Linked DNA regions of Homo sapiens. The protein of the gene in region 1 purifies or fractionates together with the protein of each later gene. This does not show direct contact. Each region holds a gene or a part of one and is shown in the gene's direction. Other genes may lie near its edges. The genes, in order: MSH5, GLG1 and SPG7.

Region 1 (3,651 bases):
AGCATCTCCAGGAATCGGCAGGGTAATTTAATTACCCACACATTCTTCAGTGCTTCAGGTGCAGATCTTTAATCTCAGCCACAGATGGGAGGGAGAGAATTCTCAGTGGAGAAGAGAGCTGGATTTAAGGTCGGGGAGGAATGCGTATTCCCCAAATGGAATCAGACAGGGCATGAGATCATATAACTTGAAGAATCATCATATAATCTAATGAACTAAGGACAGGTGACATATTTATTAATATTTCTGTATACGAATTTATTTTAATTTATTAGGAAATACCTCTAACGTACAAAAAGATGTAAATAATAATATAGGGCCAGATGTGGTGGCTCACGCCTATAATCCCAGCATTTGGGAGGCTGAGGCAGGAGGATTGCTTGAGGCCAGGAGTTCAAGAACTAAAAGCTGTACAGGCACCAAGAATATGACTGAATGTCACAGTATGCTCTAAAGGGCACTGTCCTAGGAGTCTGGAGACATGATTTTGAGACTTAGCTGTTCTCATTGGCGGTATGACTTTGGGCAAGTTGCTTATCTTTTAACGGTTTCATTTTCTCAGTTGTTAAATTTACAGTTTGGTTTAACTAAAGTCTCTCCCAGTACGAGCAGGGCGTGAGTCAGAGATACCTAAGTGTTTAGTGCAGCGCATGTGCTTTCTAAAGTGGGGATGGCTATTTACAGACTGGCCTACACTGTTCTGGTGGGAGCCCTCAGTGACCAAGGAGCAGAGGTACCTGAAACCCACCCTTGAAGCCATCTGGATGCTCCGCTTCATTCAAATCTGGGGTGTTCTAACCCAAAGTAACTGGCCACAGACTGCAATGTAAGATACAAATCTTCAGGACCTAGTGTGTGCACATGTTGGCTCTTATATAAGATGGCATCCTTAGTACTTGTTCTATGTAGAAAAGAATTTGTGGGCTCACAAGTCCCTACAGAGTCTCACACTCTCATGGCCAATAAGTATACAGGGATACCCGGAATTAGACAAACACAGATGAGACATTTATTTCTGTATATGAATTTATTTTATTTATTTATTTATTTTTTGAGACAGAGTCTCACTCTGTCACCCATCCTGGAGTGCAGTGGCCTGGCTCATTGCAAGCTCCACCTCCCGGGTTTACACCATTCTGCCTCACCCTCCCGAGTAGCTGGGACTATAGGTGCCCGCCAACACGCCCGGCTAATTTTGTTGTGTTTTTAGTAGAGACGGGGTTTCACCGCGTTAGCCAGGATGGTCTTGATCTCCTGACCTCGTGACCCGCCCTCCTTGGCCTGCCAAAGTGCTGGGATTACAGGCGTGAGCCACCGCACCTGGCCTGAATTTATTTTCATTTATTAGGAAATACCTCCAACACACAAAAAGATGTAAATAATTAGCCGGGCGTGGTGGCTCATGACTGTAATCCCAGCACTTTGGGAGGCCGAGGCAGGTGGAACACCAGAGGTCCGGAGTTTGAGACCAGGCTGGCCAACATGGTGAAACCTCATCTCTACTAAAAATACAAAAATTAGCCGGGAGTGGTGGTGCACCCCTGTAATCCCAGCTACTCCAGAGGCTGAGACACGAGAATCGCTTGAACCTGGGAGGCGGAGGTTGCAGTGAGCTGAGATCGCACCACTGCACTCCAGCCTGGACAACAGAGCAAGACTCTGTCTCAGAAAAAAAAAAAAAGATGTAAATAATAATACTATCGGGCCAGGTGCAGTGGCTTATGCTTGTAATCCCAGCACTTTGGGAGGCCATGGCAGGAGGACTGCTTGAGGCCAGGAGCTTGAGAACAGCCTGGGCAACATAGCAAGACCTCGTCTCTATAAAAACTATTAATAGTAATACAAATGGCCAGGCGCAGTAGCTCATGCCTGTAATTCCAGCACTTTAGGAGGCTGAGGCAGGCAGATCACCTGAGGTCACGATTTTGAGACCAGCCTGGCCAACACAGCGAAACCCTATCTCTACTAAAAATACAAAATTTAGCTGGGCATGGTGGCACACACCTGTAGTTCCAGCTGCTGGGGAGGCTGAGGCAGGAGAATCACTTAAGCCTGTGAGGCAGAGGTTGCAGTGACCCGAGATCCCGCCACTGTACCCTAGCCTGGGCGACAGAGCAAGACTCCATCTCAAAAATAATAATAATAATACAAATATCTATATATCCATCAGCCAATTTAAGAATAAGACATGCCGGGCGCGGTGGCTCATGCCTGTAATCCCAGCACTTTGGGAGGCCGAGGCGGGTGGATCACAAGGTCAGGAGTTCAAGACCAGCCTGGCCAAGATGGTGAAACCCCGTCTCTACTAAAAATACAAAAATTAGCTGAGCACAGTGGCGGGTGCCTGTAATTCCAGAACCTGGGAGGTGGAGGTTGCAGTAAGCCAAGATTGTGCTACTGCACTCTAGCCTGGGCGACAGAGCAAGACTCTATATAAAAAATAAAATAAAAAAAAAGAATAAGACACTATTGGCCGGGTATGGTGACTCACGCCTGTAATCCCAGCACTTTGGGAGCCGAGGCGGGCAGATCACGAGGTCAAGAGATCGAGATCATTCTGGCCAACATAGTGAAACCCTGACTCTACTAAAAATACAACAATTAGCTGGGCATGGTGGCGCATACCTGCAGTCCCAGCTACTCGGGAGGCTGAGGCACGAAAATCACTTGAACCCGGGAGGTGGAGGTTGCAGTGAGCCGAGATCGCATCACTGCACTCCAGCCTGGCGACAAAGCGAGACTCTGTCTCAAAAAAAAAAAAAAAACGAAAGAATAAGACGTTGTTGAAGCCCCTTAAATGTCCCTCCCCAATCCTTTTTTCTCTGCAGTGTTGACCATTATTATGAATTAAAGCTTATCATCCCTAATGGGACAGTTATGTTTTCACAGGAAGAATATGAAAAGATGAATGTCTGTTGCTGTTACCCAGAGACACTTTCACAGCTAAAAAGACATACAAACTCATACTGACTCACCGTCTCTTACTCAGCCTCAGAGTGAGCTGCAGTGTTGGCACACAAATACCTCAACACACTGCTCTCCTTCTAAAATATTGACAAGCTCCGTTACTTATATACATGGAATGACACACGGTCTTATCCGTTGAAACTGTGATATGTAGACACAATTATGCTCACATCTAGCAATTTTCAGTAGATACATGTAAACACACCTGAATGGGTAGGACACTGCACTTGCCACTACATTCCCATAGCACATCGTGGATACATATTGCCACAATCCCCAGGGACTGCAAGCACACTTTTTGGCAAACTGAGATCAAGATGATAGATGTAACTTGTAGTACCCCCACCCAAACCCTCACTTCCAGGCTATGGTTCACACGTCCGACTCATGACCTGGGGGAGCTCAGTTCTCGTCTGGACGTCATTCAGTTTTTTCTGCTGCCCCAGAATCTGGACATGGCTCAGATGCTGCATCGGCTCCTGGGTCACATCAAGAACGTGCCTGTGAGCCCAGGGTGGAGGGCAGGGAGGTGGGGAAGGAGGTTGAGGGCTGATACTGGGCAGTGGGCTTCTTGAGGGGCATTAGAGTGAGGGAAGAGAAAACAGCGGCTGTAACCTTGTCTGACTGTAGCTGATTCTGAAACGCATGAAGTTGTCCCACACCAAGGTCAGCGACTGGCAGGTT
Region 2 (3,651 bases), on another chromosome or scaffold:
TGCCTCCTGGGTTCAAGTGATTTTTCTGCCTCAGCCTCCCGAGTAGCTGGGACTGCAGACATGCGCTACCACACCCGGCTAATTTTTGTATTTTTAGTAAAACGGGGGTTTCGCCACACTGGCCAGGCTGGTCTTGAACCTCTGACCTCAAGTGATCTGCCTGTCTTGGCCTCCCAAAGTGCTAGGATTACAGGTGTAAACCAGTGCACCCGGCCTCTTTTCTTAAGCAAGGACTGTCTACTTTAGCTTTGTCCTTGTTCTTTTTTTTCTTTGAAAGTCTTACTCTATCTCCCAGGCTGGCTGGAGTGCAGTGGCATGATCATGGCTCACTGCAACCTCAAACTCCTGGGCTCAAGCTCTCCTCCCACTTCAGCCTCCCGAGTAGCTGGGACTATAGGTACACAACACCACTTAGCCTTGTTCTAAGCGGAAATATACGTGAACTCATGAATTTGATGTGGTAGGTATACTTCTCTAATATATATGAAACTAAATATATGACTATAAAATATAAGTACCAACACATACCACCTGAAATCATCTTGCATATTACCAATAGCACATGCTTCAGAAAGCACTAACACTGGATTATCTTTCTCTGTTGTTTTTTTGTTTTGTTTTGCTTTTGGTTAAGACGGAGTCTCGCACTGTCACCCAGGCTGGAGTGCAGTGGCGCGATCTCACCTCACTGCAACCTTTGTCTCCTGTATTCAAGCGATTCTCCTGGCTCCACCTCTCTAGTAGCAGGGATTACAGGCACCAGCCACCATGCCTGGCTAATTTTTTTTTTGTTTTTTTTTTGAGACAGAGTCTAGCTCTGTCACCCAGGCTGGAGTGCAGTGGCGCGATCTCGGCTCACTGCAAGCTCTACCTCCCGGGTTCACGCCATTCTCCTGCCTCAGCCTCCCGAGTAGCTGGGACTACAGGCGCCCACCACCATGCCCGGCTAATTTTTTGCATTTTTAGTAGAGACGGGGTTTCACCATGTTGGCCAGGATGGTCTCGATCTCCTGACCTCGTGATCTGCCCACCTCGGCCTCCGAAAGTGCTGAGATGACAGGCGTGAGCCACTGTGTCCGGCCGAGGCTTGGCTAATTTTTGTATTTTTAGTAGAGACGGGTTTTCACCATGTTGGCCAGGCTGGTCTTGAACTCCTGACCTCAGGTAATCCCACCCGCCTTGGCCTCCCAAAGTGGTGGGATTACAGGCGTGAGCCACCGCTCCTGGCCTTGGATTATCTCTTAAGATTCTTCCAGCTCCGGTGCTTTGTGATTTTGTGATCTGTGGGAATACAAAACGTGTGCAAGAGAGTCGTAGCACAGGTGGAAAGGGGAGATGCTTTGGGGAATTATTAAAGGGGCTGTATTGACCGAAATAGAGAACTTGAAAATGTTTTCAGTCCAGGTCATGAAGGGTCGTATATTCACCTCTAGCTGGTTCTCCAAGTAAAGTCCAGAAATGGGATGTTTTTATCCCTACCTCAGATAAAAATATTACAGCAGATAATTGAGAATTACCTGTAAAGTAGCATTGTCGTTTATGGCAAATACTTTTTAAGAAATCTCTTGATGAGAATGCTTTACAGTATATAGTTGCTTAATAATTCATTGTTCTGTAGAAGGAAATAAAATACTTGAACAGTCCAAAAGATGAAATGCTGTATTTCTCTTTTGTGCATTTCTCCTAATGTGTTCAAAACAAATTTACTCAGGAACAATAACAAAAATCTCCTCTTTATATAAGTTATATATATATATATTTATATATTTGTTGTTGTTGTTTTGAGGTGGAGTTTCGCTCTTGCTCAGGCTGGAGTGAAGTGGAATGATCTCGACTCACTGCAACCTCCACCTCTCGGGTTCAAGCCATTCTCCTGCCTCAGCCTCCCGAGTAGCTGGGATTATAGGCACTTGCCAGCACACCCGGCTAATTTTTGTAGAGACGAGGTTTCACCATGTTGACCAGGGTGGTCTCAAACTCCTGACCTCAGGCAATCCACCCACCTCAGTCTCCCAAAGTGTTGGGATTACAGACGTGAGCCACCGCGCCCGGCCTTATTTATATATTTTTAAAAGCAGCAGTTAAAATGGCTTATAGGCTATCATGTAAATTAATTTTTCTTCTTTCTTTTTTCTTTTTTTTTTTGAGATGGAGTCTCATTCTGTCACCAAGCTAGAGTGCAGTGGCGCGATCTCGGCTCACTGCAACCTCCACCTCCTGGGTTCAAGTGATTCTCCTTCCTCAGCCTCCCGAGTAGCTGGGACTACAGGCGCCCGCCACCACGCCCGGCTAATTTTTTGTATTTTTAGTAGAGACGGGGTTTCACCATGTTGGCCAGGATGGTCTTGATCTCTTGACCTCGTGATCCGCCCGCCTTGGCCTCCCAAAGTGCTGGGATTACAGGCGTGAGCCACCGCGCCCGACCAATTTTTCTTCTTTCAGCAAACATTTATTGAAACCTGTGTGCAAGACACTGCTCAGTGTTCAAGTATACTACTGCTACTTATAATGGTTAGCATTTACTGAGGGTTTTCTGTGTGCCCTGTTCTGAGGGACTGGATGCTTTCTAGGCGTTATCTCATTTAATCTTATGAGAGATGTTTTATTATTATCATTCTTATTGATTTTGTTTGTTTGATTTTGTTTTCGAGACAGAGTCTTGCTCTTGACGCCCAGGCTGGAGTGCAGTGGTGTGATCTCAGCTCACTGTAATCTCTGGCTCCCGGGTTCAAGCGATTCTCCTGCCTCAGCCTCATGAGTAGCTAGGACTACAGGTACACACCACCATGTCCAGCTTTTTTTTTTTTTTTTTTGAGGCAGTCTCACTTTGTCACCCAGGCTGGAGTGCAGTGGTGCGATCTCAGCTCACTGCAAGCTCCACCTCCCGGGTTCACGCCATTCTCCTGCTTCAGCCTCCCGAGTAGCTGGGACTACAGGCGCCCGCCACCATGCCCGGCTAATTTTTTGTATTTTTTAGTAGAGATGGGATTTCACTGTGTTAGTCAGGATGGTCTCAATCTCCTGACCTCGTTATCCGCCAGCTTCGGCCTCCCAAAGTGTTGGGATTACAGGCGTGAGCCACTGCGCCCGGCTAATTTTTGTTTTTTTAGTAGAGGCAGGATTTCGCCATGTTGGCTATGCTGGTCTTGAACTCCTGACCTCAGGTGATCTGCTTGCACCACCATCTATCACCGGAGCTTTTTTTTTCTTTTTTCTTTCTTTTTTTTTTTTTTTGAGATGGAGTCTCACTCTGTCATCCAGGCTGGAGGGCAGTGGCATGATGTCAGCTCACTGCAACCTCAGCCTCCCTGGTTCAAGCGATTCTCCTGCCTCAGCCTCCTGAGTAGCTGGGACTATAGGCGCACCCCACCACGCCCAGGTAATTTTTGTATTTTTACTAGAGACGGGGTTTCGCCATGTTGGACATGCTGGTCTTGATCTCTTGACCTGGTGATCCTCCCGCCTCGGCCTCCCAAAGTGCTGGGATTACAGGCGTGAGCCACTGTGCCTGGTGAGTTTTGTTTTGGGTTTTTTTTTTGTTTGTTTGAGACGAGGTCTCACTCTCTTGCCCAGGCTGCAGTGCAGTGGCATGATCATGATTCACTGCAGCCTCTGCCTCCCGAGCACGAGTGATCATCCCACCTCAGCCTC
Region 3 (3,651 bases), on another chromosome or scaffold:
CATGGTGGCTCACGCCTGTAACCCCAGCACTTTGGGAGGCCGAGGCAGGTGGATCACTTGAAGCCAGGAGTTCGAGACCAGCCTAGCCAACTTTGCGAAACCCCGTCTCTACTAAAAATACAAAACTCAGGCATGATGGCACACACTTGTAATCCCAGCTACTTGGGGACCCCCCCCCCCCACAGACAAACATGCCGCACCTGTGGCAGTAACTAGGCTTGAGCCCGACTGTCTTTCCTCCCCTGGTTCTGGCAGGAGAGGCGGGAGATTTTTGAGCAGCACCTGAAGAGCCTGAAGCTGACCCAGTCCAGCACCTTTTACTCCCAGCGTCTGGCAGAGCTGACACCAGGATTCAGTGGTACGTTCTCAACCCGCAGCCTGGGCAGCGTCACGTCCTGAGGGCAGGTGGTGTCACCTGCGCAAACAGCATCGAGGCCTCCTCTGTGGGGTGGGCGCTGCTCCTTCTCTGGGGGCCTCTGCTCAGTACAAGCCTGGGAGGGAGCTGATGTGTATGTGGGGCAGCAGGAGGTCCAGACGGCACCCGCACTCCGTCCTCCGCCCCGGGGTGGAAAAGCAGACGGTGGTTCCCGGTCTGTGTTGTTTCCAGAGATAGTGGAGTTATGTTGCTTCCACACAGTGACCAGTCATGCCGGCGTTTCCCGTCAGACCCAGAGTCAGACCACGCAGTCCCGGCAAAGCCGCCTCCCTCTGACCCTCACGGTCTCTGTCAAGTTGTAGAAATAGAAATCATACCTCAAGATGCTTTTCCTGCTGTGTGGTTCACATTTTAAAAGTTAATGTCAACAAACCTCCCTTTTATTATGAGATGAATTTGCCCTTTGATTATTCGTTAGGGTCTTTCACTAGAATTTTGTGGTTACTAGAGAGCCTTTAATTTCTTTGCCATCAATGCTCATGAGCTGTTAGGTGGAATCAGCCACAAGATGGGGTGTGGAACTAACTGCCCTTGGGAGGAGAGACGGGCGTCAGGGCGGATGGAGCCTGGCGGTTCTGTGTCTCGTCTGTGGAATGGCCTCAGTGGAACACGGTGCAAGTGCCTGCCGCTCTCCCCACCCCTGCTCCTGGCGCCGGCGCCTGCCGCTCTCCCCAGCTCTGCTCCTGGCGCCAGCTCCCCGTGCCTCTCTCCCAGACGCTCTCACCAGCACTCTTGGTTCTTGGTCTCTTTTCCCTCTTTGTTCTTCCTTTTATTTATTTACTTATTTATTTTGAGACAGAGTCCTACTCTGTCGCCCAGACTGGAGTGCAGTGGCGTGATCTTGGCTCCCCGCAGCCTCCGCCTCCTGGGTTCAACCGATTTTCCTGCCTCAGCCTCCTGAGTAGCTGGGATTACAGGCGCTCACCACCACGCCCGGCTAATTTTTGTATTTTTAGTAGCAATAGGGTTTCACCCTGTTGGCCAGGCTGGTCTCAAACTCCTGACCTCAGGTGATCTGCCCACCTCAGCCTCCCAAAGTGCTGGGATTACAGGGGTGAGCCACCATGCCCGGCCATCTTTGTTCTCCCTTGAGGGCCCCTTCCTCCTCTTAAGCCCTGATAGCAGAAACCCACCCACCCACACCGTGGCTGTTTGTGTTGACAGGGGCTGACATCGCCAACATCTGCAATGAGGCTGCGCTGCACGCGGCGCGGGAGGGACACACTTCCGTGCACACTCTCAACTTCGAGTACGCCGTGGAGCGCGTCCTCGCAGGTACAGGGGGCGCGCCCTGGGTGAAGGCCCTCCTTAGCAGGGCTTGAACCCCAGAAATACCCAGGCAGGTATTGAGAGGTGAGGTGGATGGAACCATCACACAGGAAGGAACACACGTTGCGTTTCAGTTCTGCGTAACTCATGTCTTTATGATACCTTGTACTTTTCCTTAGTTTAAAATATCACAGATTTACCTAAGAGTAGACGCTCGTCCAACAGAAATAAAAAATGCCTTGCCAAAGAAAGTGAAAAAATAAAAATAAAAAATGCCCCCCAAAAATAAAAATAATAAAAACTAAAAATGTCTTGCCAGCCTGGGTGTGGTGGGCTCAGCCTAGCCCCAGCCTCATGGGGGCTGAGCTCCAGCCGCTGACTGTGGGCCGGAGGGCTGCTGCCGCCCGTGGCTGTGGAGGGACAGCCGTGCTTTCAGCGCAGCAGGGGCTCTGCGGAGAGGTGTGGATCTGCAGCACCACCTCTGGTGAAACTCATGGTCCCGACCGTCAGTAGGAACGGGAGATGAGTTTTGGTGACGGGTGACCGGTGGGCTGACCGCCTCTGACTGCCGTTCCGTGGCTGCTCAGTGTGGGGTCTGCGACGTCTGTGAGGAGAGAGGACCAAACTGGGAATCGGAGCTGCTGGAGGTTTCCATAGCTATGATGGCAACACCCAGACGTGATCAGTCATCTCATGGAATGGAGTTCAGACCCGCACTGTCAGTGTGAGACAGGTTGAACGTTTGAAAAGGGAAGTGGTTCTTGCCCCAGGTGTTTGAGGAGCACGAGCCTCCTTTGCGAGCTATCCCTGCGAGAACCGAGTTCCTCACCCTCAATTCGAGTGAATTCCTAGCACGAACACGCCTCTTGCAGGTCCCCAGGGCTTCAGCTTGGGAAAGCAGTGGGTTCCTGCAGAGGAGTGGGGCAGCTGCTGTGCCAGACACTGCAAAACACACCTGGCTTCTCTCCGACAGCCCTGCGGGTCGAGAGGACTGGCGCTGCCTGTGTCTTACTGAAATTTATTTTCGTGTAACCATTTACTTTTATGTGGAAATCGAAAAGCTTTTGATAATAGTAGCAAAGCAGGAAGGACTGAGTGGGAACCACAAGCCAGTTGAAAGAAAATACATGACGTACTTGAGTGCTCAGGACCACGAGCTGATTCAAGTTGTACAGAATGGACACTTACAGATGTGTGGAAAATCTGAGACAGGAAATGAAGCCTCACCAGTAAGCTGAACAGGGGAGATTTAATGCAAACATTTGTCCCTGGCTGGGCACTGTGGCTCATGCCTGTAATCCCAGCACTTTGGGGGCTGAGGCAGGAGGGTTGCTTGAGGCCAGGAGTTTGAGACCAGCCTGGGCAATACAGCAAGACCCCATCTCTTAAAAGAAAAGAATAAAGAGTATTAGCCAGGCATGGTGGTGGAGCACACCTCTGGTCTCAGCTACTCAGGAGGCTGCAGCAGGAGGATTGCTTGAACCTGGGAGGTTGAAGCAACAGTGAGCCGTGATCGCACCACTGCCCTCCAGCCTGGGCAACAGAGTGAGACCCTGTCACTGACAGAAAAAAAGCCTTGTCCCTGAGGCAAAAAGCTTCTGAAGGGGTGAGTAGAAGCCATAAGGATCCAGAAAGTGATGGGGATGGGAGCTGCGCCTCCAGGTCTGAGGGGAGAGGGAAAGTAAGCAGGAGGCCCGTAACTCAGAGGAGGCCTCTGCCCATCCTGCCAGGGAGAAAGTCAAAAGCTGCTGTTCTGTGACCCTTGCCCCGACCCTGTGGCACCCCCCCAACCATGGGGCAGGAGGAGACACTCCTCAGAGGGTTGCACTTGTTCCTAAAAGCAGCAGGAGCTATTTCGATGATTGCAACATTTATAAAAGAAGAAATCACGACCTCCTTCAACAGCCCTTTGACCTGAAGAGTGTCGTTTTGAGTTGGGGTGTCCA

What was found.
Region 2: the proteins of MSH5 (region 1) and GLG1 purify together in Homo sapiens (affinity purification with mass spectrometry; one large-scale study listed by BioGRID and IntAct). This does not show direct contact.
Region 3: the proteins of MSH5 (region 1) and SPG7 purify together in Homo sapiens (affinity purification with mass spectrometry; one large-scale study listed by BioGRID and IntAct). This does not show direct contact.

What each region holds. Positions count from the first base shown.
Region 1 is NC_000006.12:31,749,970-31,753,620, forward strand, and holds part of MSH5 (mutS protein homolog 5), read left to right. Parts: intron 1-3,331; coding exon 3,332-3,470; intron 3,471-3,597; coding exon 3,598-3,651.
Region 2 is NC_000016.10:74,597,014-74,600,664, reverse strand, and holds part of GLG1 (Golgi apparatus protein 1 isoform 3 precursor), read left to right. Parts: intron 1-3,651. UniProt on the Homo sapiens protein: Binds fibroblast growth factor and E-selectin (cell-adhesion lectin on endothelial cells mediating the binding of neutrophils).
Region 3 is NC_000016.10:89,546,403-89,550,053, forward strand, and holds part of SPG7 (mitochondrial inner membrane m-AAA protease component paraplegin isoform 1 precursor), read left to right. Parts: intron 1-255; coding exon 256-358; intron 359-1,600; coding exon 1,601-1,711; intron 1,712-2,292; coding exon of another isoform or gene 2,293-2,315; exon of another isoform or gene 2,316-2,380; intron 2,381-3,651. UniProt on the Homo sapiens protein: Catalytic component of the m-AAA protease, a protease that plays a key role in proteostasis of inner mitochondrial membrane proteins, and which is essential for axonal and neuron development.